2 linked regions of the Homo sapiens genome follow. The protein of the gene in region 2 purifies or fractionates together with the protein of the main gene of each other region. This does not show direct contact. Each region holds a gene or a part of one and is shown on either strand. Other genes may lie near its edges.

Evidence for each region. The genes of interacting proteins can lie anywhere in the genome.
Region 1: the proteins of CD226 (region 2) and ARL10 purify together in Homo sapiens (co-immunoprecipitation; 2 studies listed by BioGRID and IntAct, with this or other methods). This does not show direct contact.

Annotation. Positions count from the first base shown.
Region 1 is NC_000005.10:176,361,213-176,368,507, reverse strand, and holds the start of ARL10 (ADP-ribosylation factor-like protein 10), read right to left. Parts: upstream 3,022-7,295; 5' UTR 2,945-3,021; coding exon 2,762-2,944; intron 2,129-2,761; coding exon 1,927-2,128; intron 563-1,926; exon of another isoform or gene 477-562; intron 1-476.
Region 2 is NC_000018.10:69,888,872-69,895,892, reverse strand, and holds part of CD226 (CD226 antigen isoform a precursor), read left to right. Parts: coding exon 1-192; intron 193-7,021.

The sequences.
Region 1 (7,295 bases), on a different chromosome or scaffold from region 2:
CCTAACGGGTTGTTGCAGTAAAACCCACAGGTACCACGTGCGATGTACCTTTCACGGGACTGACACACAGGTGCTCAGTAAATGGAAGTCTTCAGTTCTCTCCCCTGGGTTGTCTGGCTTTGCCTCTTGCTAATTCCTAGCTTTCTCCTACAGGTTCAAAACTGTCAGTGATGGCTGTGACAGGAGCCAGGAGTCCTATTGTCTAGAAAACTCAGGACCCCCTGCCCTGCCTATACACAGCCATTCTCCATTCAGTTTCCCCCATCCCCTTCTTTTCCCTTGGAAATGTCATATTTCATCCTATGAACACATGGTTGCCAACACAGTCCCCCAGCCTGGATCACCTTTCTTTTCCTCTCTGCTCCTCTGCACAGTCCCATTGGTCACCCCGCACCCTAGTGTTTCTGGCTATGTTTCTGACACTTGAGGATTCTAAGCTGTGAGAGTCAGAGGCACTTACCTCTGAATCCCCACAAAGCCCTCAGCACAATGCCTGGCACATAGCAGGCACTCAACAAATATTTACTGAGTGCTTGCTAGGTGCCAAGCACTGATCTGGGTGCTGCAGATACAGAGGTGAGCAAGGCAAGCAGGGGCCCTGCACCAAGGAGCTCCCTCCCTAACTGGGAAGGACATGGCAATGACATCAACACATTTCAAAAAGGAAAGAAATAAAACAGAAAAAAGGGAAAGTGGCTGAGGTGGAACAGGGGTTGGCCCTGGATTGGGTGGTCTGGGTAGGTCTCATCAAGGAAGTGGCATGTGAGCTGAGTGGGATGATGAGAAGGAGCCAGCCATGGGAAGAGGCAGAGGAAAGCATTCCAGACAGAGGGGAGAGCATGCTGGAAGTGTCTGGGAAACAGAAAGAAGGCTGGGGTGCTGAGGCACTGCAAGAAGGAGAAAGAGATGGCTGTGAGGCTGGCTGGGGCGGGCCACATGGGGCCAAAGACCACAGTGAGGGGGTGGGGAGCCCCCCAAGGGCTTTAAGCAAGAGTGACATTACCTGACATGGGTTTTCTCTAGCTGACACTAGGGACAGAAGGGGAAGCAGGAAGACCAAAGAGGAGGCTGTGGTGCTGAGAGGAAAGATGACACTAGTTTGGGCCAGACAGGCAATAGTGGAGGAGGGTGTGCCACTGCCCACTGCCATTCCAGCCTGGGCGACAGAGACCCTGTCTCCAAAAAAAAAAAACTAGAATGGTGGGGTGCGATGGCTTACGCCTGTAATCCCAGCACTTTGGGAGGTCGAAGCGGGCAGATCACTTGAGGTCAGGAGTTCAAGACTAGCCTGACCAATGTGGTGAAACCCCCGTCTCTACTAAAAATACAAAAATTAGCCGGGCGTGGTGGCGGGCGCCTGTAATCCCAGCTGCTCAGGAGGCTGAAGCTGGAGAATCGCTTGAACCCGGGAGGAGGAGGTTGCAGTGAGCCGAGACAGCGCCATTGCACTCCAGCCTGGGTGTCACAGTGAGACTCCATCTCAAAAAAAAAAAAAAAAAAAAAAAGACTAGAAAGGTGGGTGACCTTGGATTCATGATACTACTGCTGGAACTCATTTTCCTCTGGAGATAACGAGGGTAGTGACCGATTCTAGTTTTATGTAATTGTTTAGGGGAGTTTTCTTAAGCAATGCCCGTCAAGTGCTTGGCATATGAACCCTTAGCTGTTAGTATCTCTGTGTTAGGCCTATCGACTTTGGTAGGGGTGATGGGGCAGGCGGTGCAGCTGGAGAGGCCCGATCACGAAGGGCCCTAAATGTCAGAGCACAGAGCGTGGGCTGAATCCTGTGCCCCGGAGAGCGGTGGGAAGGATTCGTAGAGGGGAATGTGCTGCTTAGACATGCATTTTGGAAGCCCCCTTCCCTGCAGAGAATCCAGGACTGGTCCAGTAGAGGAGACGGGGAGATGGGGTAGGGTGTCCGCTCACTTTCTAGCAGGTCCACCTCAAAGTCCTTGGTGGGCAGACGCACGGAGTTGAAGCCCCAGGTGGGGATGTGGCCTTCCAGCGGTGGCTTCCCCGACAACACGCGCAGGAACGTGCTCTTGCCTGCGCCATCCAGCCCCAGCACCAGCACCTCGCGCTGTTCCAGCTCCTCCAGCGCCGGCTCCTCGTCCTCCTCGTCCTCGGGCTGCGGGGAAGCGGAGGTAAGGTTGCGGCTGGCGGCCTCCCGAAGGACCTTTCCCGAGGGAAGACCGAAGGCACCAGAGGGCCCAGGCCCGCCTTCCACCCGTCCTGGGACAGGCAGGCATGGTCTGGATGAGTGGGACGAACGCCGCCTTTGCAGTCCTGAATTCCAAACCCTTGGCGAATTCCTTAAACGCTCGCGCGCCCCGCTTCCTCCACCGGTCTCGGAGTCCCGACCGCAGGCGGGAGGGGATGGGGTTTCTCCCGACATCCCCACCCCCGGGCGGGGTGCACTGCGCAGGCGCCGGAGGGGCGCGAGCCGACCCGGCTGGGCCCCGGGATGCTCCCGAGCCGCGCCCTCCAAACTCCGGCCCCCGCTGGAACACCCGAGCCTCATGGCGTGGAGCGACGGCGTGGCGCCAAGGCGCCGCACGCACCCAAGCACACCCACCCGTTCCTCGGTTCCCGGGCTCTGACCGCCCACCCGCGCGGGGCCTGTGCGCTGCGGCTGCCAAGCCCTCGACCCCCCAAGCTCCCGGCACCAGCAGGGCCGTTCCGTGGTCACACCCCTTGGCCACATGCGCGGAGTCGCAGCCCAGCCTGCCCGCCCTTCCGCAGGCCTCGGCCCGGCACTCACGTCCCACTCGTCCCACTCGGGGAGGCGGGCAGCCTCCGCGCCCCACCAGGCCTCTCCCCGGTCCCAGCGCCGCTCTCGGCCGCGGCCGAAGTAGGTCTTCCAGAGGATGAAGAGCACCGAGCCCAGCACCGCCGCGGCGCCGCCCAGCGCCAGCACCAAGGGGCCCAGCGGCCGCGGCGCCATCGGGCCGGGCGAGGGACGCAGGTGCGGGTTGCACAGGCCGAGCCCACTCGCCCGCCGAAGATGGCCCCGCTGCGACTGCTGCGGCCGCGCCCACCCACCCAGACCCAGTCCCGCACTACAAGCCCCACAATGCACTGCCGCTGTCACGGCAGGCCGCCCGGGACCCGGCGGCGTGGGTGGTGGGGCGCTGGCCGGCGCGCGGGGACCTCCGGTCCCCCTGCCAGGTGCAGGGTGGAGGAAGGAGAGGCTGTGCCTGGGGAGGACGGGAGACGGCGGTGCTTGCTAGCATCCACCAGGGGTTAGCTCACGGCTTTTCTCCGTTACCCCTTACAATGATACCACGCAGAAGGGAAAACCGAGGCCCAGGAGTTAAGTAACCCGCCCAACGCCGCATCGTAGTGCTTTGGTGTAGCCTGCGTTCAAACCCAAGCGATCTGTCTCCCGGTCATCCCTCAAGACCTCGGGAGGAAATTGAAGCAAGACGCCCGATATCACACGGCAGTGGGGTGGCAGAGGCAGGAATAGAACCCAGGTCCGTGGCTCCCCGCCACCTCTAGCCTTCTTTCGCTGCCTCCCGGACCACAGGGGTTTTGCTGGGGTCCTGGTCAGGCTGAATTAAGCAGTGTCAGGACTTCAGAATGTTTAGGGCTGACTGCCTTGTCCTAGGTACCCCCAGTGACTGCCAAGGCTTCCACGTGTGTAGCACGAGGAGGAAGAACAGGAGAAACGACCTGAGTACAGCAGTCGGGTTCTTTTGGCTCTCCAGAGGGGTGACGCCATGTACGGCTGGCTGTAGGGTACATGGGTCGAGAGACCGCCTGTGGCTCTCAGGGCCCAGCAGGGCTACCTCTTCCCCTTTATATTGTCTCAACTCTTCACCTCCTTTTAGTTTGCGATTCCTCTGTACCCCTGGCTCTGGGTCCCAGCCCCTATTCCTTCTGATTTGTCCCCCTTTCCCTTTGACTACATATATATGCTCCTCTCCTCCCAGATAGTGATGTTTTAGCTACATCTTATTTCTTCCGGCATTGATTCTTTTGAAAAATTTATTTCTGGCCGGGTGTGGTGGCTCATGCCTGTAATCCCAGCACTTTGGGAGGCCGAGGCAGGCGGATCACCTGAGGTCAGGAGTTCGAGAATAGCCTGCCTAACATGGTGAAACCCCATCTCTACAAAAATTAGCCGGGCGTGGTGGCACGTGCCTGTAATCCCACCTACTCAGGAGGCTAAGGCAGGAGAATCGCTTGAACCCAGGAGGAGGAGGTTGCAGTGTGCTGAGATTGCGCCACTGCCCTCCAGCCTGGGTGACAGAGCAAGAATCCGTCTCAAAAAAAAAAAAAAAGAAAAAAAAATTAGCTCCTCCTCAAAAATACACCCACTTAGAGGGGAAAACCCACAAAATTGCTAAGATTAAAAGTTTGGCTGGTGCGGTGGCTCACGCCTGTGATCCCAGCACTTTGGGAGGCCGAGGCAGCCGGCCGGATCACGAGGTCAGGAGATCGAGACCATCCTGGCTAACACGGTGAAACCCCATCTCTACTGAAAATCCAAAAAATTAGCCGGGCGTGGAGCCGGGCGTGGTGGCAGGCGCCTGTAGTCCCAGCTACTTGGTAGACTGAGGCAGGAGAATCGCTTGAAACTGGGAGGCAGAGGTTACTGTGAGCCGAGATTGCGCCACTGCATTCCAGCCTGGGCAACAGAGCGAGACCTTGTCTCAAAAAAAAAAAAAAAAAAAATGTTTACAGTCTATTATTTGTGGAAAAGAAATAGGTGCTCTCACATAGGTGCTATGCACCAAGACCATGACAGCTTCAGACATTGGTACCACAAATATCAGGGATAAAGTTTTTTTTTTTTTTGAGATGGAGTCTCACTCTGTAGCCCAGGCTGGAGTGCAGTAGTGTGATCTCAGGCCTCCCAAAGTGCTGGGATTACAGGCATGAGCCACCACACCCAGCCAGAAATAAATTTTTCAAAAGAATCAATGCCGGAAGAAATAAGATGTAGCTAAAACATCACTATCTGGGAGGAGAGGAGCATATATATGTAGTCAAAGGGAAAGGGGGACAAATCAGAAGGAATAGGGGCTGGGACCCAGAGCCAGGGGTACAGAGGAATCGCGAACTAAAAGGAGGTGAAGAGTTGAGACAATATAAAGGGAAAGAGGTAGCCCTGCTGGGCCCTGAGAGCCACAGGCGGTCTCTCAACCCATGTACCCTACAGCCAGCCGTACATGGCGTCACCCCTCTGGAGAGCCAAAAGAACCCGACTGCTGTACTCAGGTCGTTTCTCCTGTTCTTCCTCCTCGTGCTACACACGTGGAAGCCTTGGCAGTCACTGGGGGTACCTAGGACAAGGCAGACTGCAGCCTCCGTCTCCCAGGTTCAAGAGATTCTCCTGCCTCAGTCTCCAGAATAGCTGGGATTACAGGCACCTGTCACTACGCCTGGCTGATTTTTGTATTTTAGTAGAGACGGGGTTTCGCCGTGTTGGCCAGGATGGTCTCGAACGCCTCAGCCTCTGAAAGTGTTGGGATTACAGGCCTGAACCACCGTGCCCAGCCAGAAAAAGTTGTTTTAATCAAATAGTAACTTCCAGGAAAGTCTTAAGTTTTCATGTATTTGTGGCTAAGAAATAAATGAGATGATCCCACCTTATGATCTACATAAGGGTGCAAAGTGCTATTTCTTCCTTTTCTGACTGAGAGGTGATATACATCCCTTCCTGTGGTGGATAAAGAGCAAGGTGCCAGCTTTGCTTCCACAGAGGTTAAAAAATATGGCATATTTTAAAAGCTCCAAATTAACAAAGGAACACCTTTAACACACACACGCACGCACACATATACACACAATTATACTGCAATGTAATTGTGCTGTTGATAAGCTAATTATAGAATTCATCAAAGACTTTAATTCTTAGTGCACTCAAGCACCCTGGTCTGGAAACAGCGCTTAAGTTTCAAGTCGCATGAGCAAGGCCTCTCAGTTCTGCCAGTACGGCTGGAAGCCTCAAATGCTGAAATCTAAATGTGACATTCACCCTGCACCACCAATCATAGCTCTCCTGAGATGAGTTTTGATGGCGAGCTTTGGACTGGGGTAGAAACGTGGATAGATTTTTGCAAATTCTGCTGTAACTTCGTTGCTTCGCCTTCTTTGTGAACCCTTCAGGGATAAGAGAAGTCTTCCTTCAGGATGTGACTGACACCTCAGCTGGCGCCTCTAAGCCTCACTCTCCTTTATGTAAAAGAGAAATGATATTAGGATCGCCTTCCCTAGGGGAGGCAGGTGAGGTCGGTTCCCTTTTTTGGTTCAGCTACTAGTACGAACCCTGCCTAACCCCGCTGTTTTGGGAGACAGTCCGTGCTCACTGCACCGCTTGCTAATCGAAGTGACTTCTCATCTCTCCCAGTCTCAGCTTCACCTCCGTGAAGTGGGAAAAACAGGATGACAAGTGCTCGCACTTGGCAGCCCTTTTTGAGCCTTGAGGGCTTGGGTTTGTGGGTGTCATTTTACTATGCTACCTCCGTCTTCCCTTAGCTTGTCACGGACCCAGGCACAGCACACGCGCTGAGGAAGTGGTGGTGAAGTGTGGCGTTTCCTCTCGGGGCTGGCGGATTCCACACTCGGAGCTGCGGCTCCACAACTCGCTGGGCGGCGAAGGGCATGGGGAGGGGGCGGGTCTCGCGATCGTGGACAACAACTCCCAGCATGCCCTGTGCTCCGCTGGGCCAAGTCTCGCGCGAGATCCCGCGGTCTCCGGAGGCTTTATCTGCAGTGCTGCCTGCCCGCTGGGTGGTACTGCTACCTAGTGGGTCTTGGGGACCTTCGAAATCGCCGCCGCTCTCACAATGGCTTGGGTCCAGACTGCGCCACAGCCTCTCGGGAGACGTGGGCCCTCGGAACCTTTTTAGTGCCGGACTCCGGGCCGCAGGCAGTCCCGCGGCAGCAGGATCACAGGTGAACAGATGGCGGGCCTGGGCCCTCCCTTGGGGCTGCGTTCTCTGGCGATCAGGAGGGGCGCTTCCGGCGAGGCCCGATCTCGGGGCCCCTCCAAGCCACTCCCCTCTCCCCGCACCTCTTAACCCTTCATCCCGGCTTCGAGCTCGGCTGGGTCGCCTCTTGCCTCCCTGGCTCCGCTCTCTGGGGTCTCCGTAATGGGGCTTCTCTCCGGGAATGCCCTGCAGCTCCCGTACGGGCTTCCCCTCCGCTTCGTGGGACCAGCCCAGCCCGAGCCCCCGCGGCTTGTCCTCAACCTCATCTCCCCACACCCCGCCTTCGGCTAGGGTCCTGGCCCTAATCTTAGCCTGGAGGGGTGGGTGAAGCAGCCGGCCTTTCGTATCCTGGCG
Region 2 (7,021 bases):
GCAACTTGGTCCATGGCAGAAATTTCACCTCCAAGTTCCCAAGACAAATAGTGAGCAACTGCAGCCACGGAAGGTGGAGCGTCATCGTCATCCCCGATGTCACAGTCTCAGACTCGGGGCTTTACCGCTGCTACTTGCAGGCCAGCGCAGGAGAAAACGAAACCTTCGTGATGAGATTGACTGTAGCCGAGGGTGAGTGAGCACCAGACATCTTCTGGTATCAAACATGGAAAAAGCCAGCCCCGTGGGCTGGTCTCTGTTTTTATTTATGGTAAACATGTTCATTTAATGCGCATATTCAGCATTTTTTTAAATGGCTGAATTTAGGTGAGTTGGCCATTATTCTAGTATTGAGGGTTTCTTTATCTTGTGAATCCATCAATCAGATACAGCAATAAAAATCTTTCCAATTTTCTTATCTGCCACCATCCTGAAGCTTAAAAAAGAAATTCGTAAAGGGCTGAAAAACATATGGTATTACCAGCCTTCAGGTTTCAGCTGTAGAACTCCTATCTTCCCAATTACATGAATATTTTTGATGGTGGTGATAAGGTGTTAGAATCCCCACATACCCCAGCAATACAAGACAGTGCTAGGTTGATATGGCTGAAGCAGGGCTGCGTTGAGTGCATTTCAGCAGGTGTTTGAGAATGCGGTTGCCAGTTTGCCAGACAGGAGCCTTTTTTTCTCTCAGTCTTTTTCAGATGTGGATGCAGAAACAGACTGATGTTGCATCTTAATATTACTAGGAAAATAGGTTTGACCTTGCAGATCCCCAAAAGGGACACAGGGATCCTCAGGGACCCCCAAACATACTATAAGAACCACTGACTTAGATCTTTGGTGACCATTACTGAGTATAATCTTTGTGCTGGTGAAATTGGCCTTTGGGGCTTCCACCTCCTCCAAGGCCTCCTCCAAGGCACCACACTATTTGTATATTAGGCATTTGTCTTTTTTTTGTCACAATGAAGCCTTTCATTGTGTTTCAGGACCTGCAAAACCTAGATCCACTTTGCATGAGTATGAGAAAAAGTAATTTCTTTCACTTACAGAAGTGCTAATATAGAGAGGCCCATATAGAGGTCTGTGTAGAGGCCTGCATTACAGTTGAGAGAGAGGAAGGCCATCCCAGGCTCTCCCAGCTCTGCCTCTGGGCCAGCTTCCTCACTGTCGGGACACGGAAGAGAAAATAATTTATTTTTACCTTTCACTTTGTTCTCCCTTCTTCCTTTCCTTCCTCCCTCCCCTCCCCTCCTCCCCTCCCCTTCCTTCCCTCCCCTACCTTCCCCCTCCCCTGCCCTCCCCCTCCCCATCTCCCTCCCCTTCCCTCCCCCCCCTCCCCTCCCCTCCCCTCCTGTCTCTCCCCTCCCCTCCCCTCCTTTCTCTCCCCTCCCCTCCCTTCCCTTCTCTCCCCTCCCTTCCCTTCCCTCCCCTCCCCTCCCCTCCCTTCCCTCCCTCCCTCCCTCCCTTCCTTCCTTCCTTCCTTCCTTCCTTCCTTCCTTCCTTCCTTCCTCCCACTTGAGCAGGCCCCTTCCAAAGCACTGCACTATTTGTGTATTAGGCATTTGTCTCTTTTGTCACAATGAATCCTTAAATTGTGTAAGATTCCAGCCCCCACAAAACCTAGATCCACTTTGTATGATTGTGAGAAAAAGTGATTTTTTTTTTATTTACAGAAGTACAAATATAGAGGTCCATATAGAGTTCTGTGTAGAGGCCTGTATTACAGTTCCCTCCCTCCCTTTCTCCCTCACTCTCTTCCATCTTTCCTTCCCTTCCTTCCTTCTTTCACTCTGTTCCATTCCCTTTTCTTTTCTTCCTTCCCTTCTCCCTTCCACATGCTTTCAGCCAGCTAATTTACCTTTGACTTATGTTAGACTTGTAGAGCCAACGCTTGCTAGGCTTTGGCTGTCCCTTTATAGACTTTGCTCATATTGCAAACTGATATTTCTTCCTGTGTTGAAAATGAAGAAGAAAAGGTCTTGTATAAACAGAAGCTTCCACTATAGCTCTGTGTATAATAAGGAGAGCATTTTCAGGGAATAACATCTTTTCATACACAATCACCTTGGACCACATCAAGCCTCCCTTGTTCCTCTAGGAACTGTGGTGAGACATACATTGGACTTAGAATTTAATGAAAATGATGAGTGGTTGGTGAAATATTTGGGGGAGGAAAAATTAGCAGAGACTCCTCATTTTAAATGTTGACTCTGTTCCTTCAGACACAGACAAAAAGAACTTCTTACCTAAAAATCCCTTGCATTATGGAAGTATTTTTTGAAACTGGTCAGGAAAAAGAAACAGTGAAAACAGATTAGAGACCAAGGCAAGAAAAAAATGTTCTATTCAGAAAAGTGTCATAAAGAATCATTTTCAAACACGTATAAGATTTTGCCCATTATATGCTGAAAAAGTAATTGTAAACATCTTAAATTATAGAGAAAATGAAGGTAACAGATTTTTAGGAGATATGGTTATTTAACTCTTATTAATTAATAAAAATGTCATTCATCTGTCCAAAGATGACTAAGTTTCTTGCACAAAACTATTTCTTTGTATGTAAATTATAAACAGCGTCAAACTCTGCCAATGAAATGAAGATGACTAAATGTAATGGTCAGTAGTGTTAGTGTCCATGTGTTTTGAACAGTTGCAAATGGCTTTTTGACATTCAGTTGACAGATTGAAAGAATGTCAACTGGACCTTGTATCCATTAGTAAAAAGTTATCATTGACAGAAGATGACAGCCATTGACTGTATGTTTCAGTTTAATTCCTTTTTTCAATTTTTATAAGTGAAAGATTGAATATAAAACTTAGATGCAAAGCAAAACAGATCATTTGTGTTTTCTCTGGTGCAATTTGATTATTTCACGTCTTGAGGCTCTTTGGTCAAAAATCAATGTGGAGATTAAAGCAGAGAGACAGATATAAGATGTGGGACAGATTTAATTTATTTCAACTGCCAAGGGAAAGGTGATTGTGGCAGATTTTATAAATTGCTGTACATACTTTTGTTAGTTCTCAATGACTTCTTTTATAGCACATAGTATTGGATCTAAAAGAGAGATTTTTAGGACTCTCATATTCATACACACACACACACATGCACACACAGACACGGACACACACACAGAGAGGGGCTCTTCCCCTGACTCCTACCTGCCTGCATTCATCTTCAGACAAGTACCAGGTCACTCAACAGAGGACCCCTGCCAACCAGCAGGTCAAGTATCCAGGCCTTGATTGGTTTTGAACAGAGGAGAAAATGGCAGAAGCAAGAACTGAACTCACATTTACCACTGACTTTCTTTGCTGAGTGAAAAGAAATACATTTCTCTTGTCCTTTGCACTTATGTCCTGAAATGTAGAATGAAATAATTCCAGACTGACTTTTCTGAATTTGAAACTTGCCTGGACCGAAGGGCAAGGAAAGTGGGGACGGGGGGAGCACAGGGGAATGTCTGTTTATTGACAGTGACTACAGTTATTTTTGGCCCTTAACATCCTCTGGATTTTCATTTGTCATAAGAGAAGTATTTTAGGTGCCACTAAAATAATTTGTCAAATATTTTAATATTAGCTAAATGATTTGCAGACTACTATTGTTTAAACTGACCTTATTGGCTATAAAAAGAATGAAGGCAAAAGAAATAAAATCAGCTCTTGCAGAAAGTTTCTGGAGGAGGCTAATATTGAAAAAACTTCTGTTTGCTATTGATAAGTATAATTACTCATGTCCTTGTATAATCGTCTTCCACCAGTGAGACCACTCAGGCGGGACCATCAAGGTTCAAATGAGGCATTGATGATTAGAGCTGAGGAATGACATGAAACAGGTTATGAAGAGTAACCCCAAATATGCAGGAGGAATGGGGAGATGGTGCATGGGAGACTGTAGTCAAATGACTAGGTTGGTATGGAGAGTCTAAGTTATGTATTAATATGGGACGAGGTAGGTTAAATTAAGTGATGACAGTGAAAACCTGCATCTCATATAATTGTCAAGCAAAGCTACCATTAGTTCTTGAGCAAAGATGGCAAAACAATAATCATGAAAGAATAAGTTGCTATATGATTTTCAGTGTGCAAGTCTTTAACATTTTTGGTTAAGTTTATTCTTAAATACTTTATTCCTTTTATTGTTATTGGGGATGGGATTTTGTTTTAATTCCTTTTTTGGATAGTTTGCTGTTTGTGTACAGAAACCTGACTGATATTTTATATGTTGATTTTTGTATCCTGCCTCTTAACTGAATTCATTTATTAGTTTGAACAGGTTTTTTTGTGGCACTTTTAGGGTTTTATACATATATGATTATGTCATCGGCAAACAGAGATAATATTACTTCTTCCTTTCTGATTTGAATGCCTTTTGTTTTCTTTTTCTTGTTTAATGGCTCTGATTAAGACTTCTTGTACTATGTTAAGCAGAGGTGTTGAAAGTGGCCACCTTTGTCTTTTTCCTGATCTTAGAGCAAAAGTTCTCAGTCTTACATGACTTGGTATGATGTTAGCTGTGGGCTTTTCATAGATGGCCTTTATTGTGTTGGGGTAAATTCTTTCTGTACCTAATTTGTTGAGAGTTTTTTTTTTTTAATCACACAAGGATGTTGAATTTGTCAAATGCTTTTTATGCTCTATTTTGATGATCATGTGGCCTTTTTATATCACTTTGTTAATGTGGTGTATTACATTGATTGATTTACATATGTTGAACCATCTTTGCATGCCAGGGATAAATCAGAATTGATTAGAATATACAATCCATTTAATGTGATGGTGAATTTAGTTTGCTAGTATTTTGTTGAGGATTTTTTCATCTGTGTTCATTAGGGATGTCAGCCTGTAGGTTTTTTTTTTTTTTTTGTGGTGTCTTTGTCTGGTTTTGGTATCAGGGTGATGCTGGTCTCATAAACTGAGTTTAGAACTGCTTCTTTTTTTAAAAAAGAATTAAATCATTTATTGATTACACATGATAATGTAGAACTGTTTCTAAACTCAGGATTGGCATTAATTCCTAGAATGTTTGATAGAATTCATCTGTGAAGCCACCTGGTCCTGGGATCAGTGATGGGTCATAGGCCACTGATCCACCTACCTTTGTAGGCACAAAGGTGTCCTACACAGGGTAGAGAGATACTGTCAGCATGATTTGAATCTCAGTTTGTGCTTTCCACTGCCTCAAAACACTCACACTTTCCTACTTTCTCCTTTTTCTAACTGACTAAGTTTCCATCACATTTGCTTTCTTTCCTATAGAGTTTCAGCCGTCTCAATGTCTATGTTTTTTTCCACATCAGACCAAACTGCTTCCCCATCATTGAAATATTAAGCATCTTGGATTTCTCAAACTTTTATAGTCTGAAAATTGCTACCCTCGAGTGACTTATTAACTTCCATCTATTTGTATTTATTTATTTATTTATTTTTTGAGACCGGGTTATGAGACTGGCTAATTTTTGTATTTTTGGTAGAGATGGGGTTTCAAGGATGGTCCTGGGCTCAAGCAATCCCCTGCCTCAGCCTCCTAAAGTGCTGGGATTGGTAGTGTGAACCACCACACCTGGCCTGCATCTATTTGTAATGTTCCAAACTCTGGTTATCAGAAATTAATTGAGATTAAGGATTATGGCATCTGCTTAAAGTTGTCAAAGCATCTTTTCAGAATATGCCCAGTAAGTGTTCTTGACCGATTATGTTAATGTTTCTATTCATTCTAGTAGGGGCTGTGTCCATTTTAATTTTAAGTTTTCTACCTCTTTTCTTTCCAGATTTTTTTTCTTCAACGTTTAACCTTTGAGGTTTACTGATTGTTGATCAAAGAAACTGAACTTTCAAAAGATCAACTACAGTGATTGGAGAAAAAACTTTCATGAACTCTTGTTTACATATATAACTTTCAGATAGGGCTATTTACTTTTTTAACTTTCATTTTCTTATTTTGAATTTTTAATATAAGTGGCACATAATTGCTGGTCATCTGAATAGAAGGATGGGATTAGTAAATTAAGATTACAAAACTATTCACTAGGAAATCATAGTGCCACAGCTAAGAGAATCTTCCCAGATATTTCCTCTGGGACGATGTGAGGTATAGGATTGACAAGGAGGAAGGACAGGGGAATAGAGTGCTGTAAGTTATAAATACATCCGTATATAGATGATACATCTTATTTATACAGATTATAAATCTTGCCTGTAGATGGCTTGTGGGAGGTTACTGACTTTGAGACTCTGTGCTCCTGAGTTGGATTATAAAATTATTGAAGAAAGGAAATAAATTTTGCTTATTTCCTTGGCCTTTTATTTCTGTCAAAAACCAACCAGTTTGCTCCCAGTCCATTTGGATTCCAGAAGAGTTTCAGGTTGTAGACAAGACAGTTTTTTTTTTTTTTTAAGGATTCCATTAATCCAGAACCTTCTGTCCCACTCCTATGAATTTAGAATAGATATAAAGCTTGTGGACATGAGGATTGTCTGAACTGGTGTGCACTGGGCTGACAGATATGTCCCTTTCCATGACATTGTGTGGTGAACCTCAGCCTTTTATTATCTTTACCTACATGGAAAGTAAAATGTCCATGACAGTTAATTTATATGATGGAGCAACACGACCAGAATCCCAGAGCACCGTGTCACTGCTCACAAGCTAAAATAACCTCTACTCAAACAGATCAACCACAATTTTCAGCCCAATTTAGTTTTCTCGGTGAAACTGGGTATCCAGATGAAACATAGTTTCCAGCATCACAAGTGAGTTGATTACTCAATCATGGCTATTATGTGGTTGAATCTTTACTTTACTGTTGCCTCTGCCCAGATCATTTTTTTTAATGATCTATTGCATTCAAAAAAATGCAACCGGTCAGTTAATTTGTTTTGTAAGCCCTAGTATTGATCTATTCATTTTTTGAACACACAAAAACCTAGAATGTTTGCCTGCAGTCATTTTTTATACATACTATTATTGTATAGATAAGTAAGATATTGAATAATAGTGATAAGTTATTGT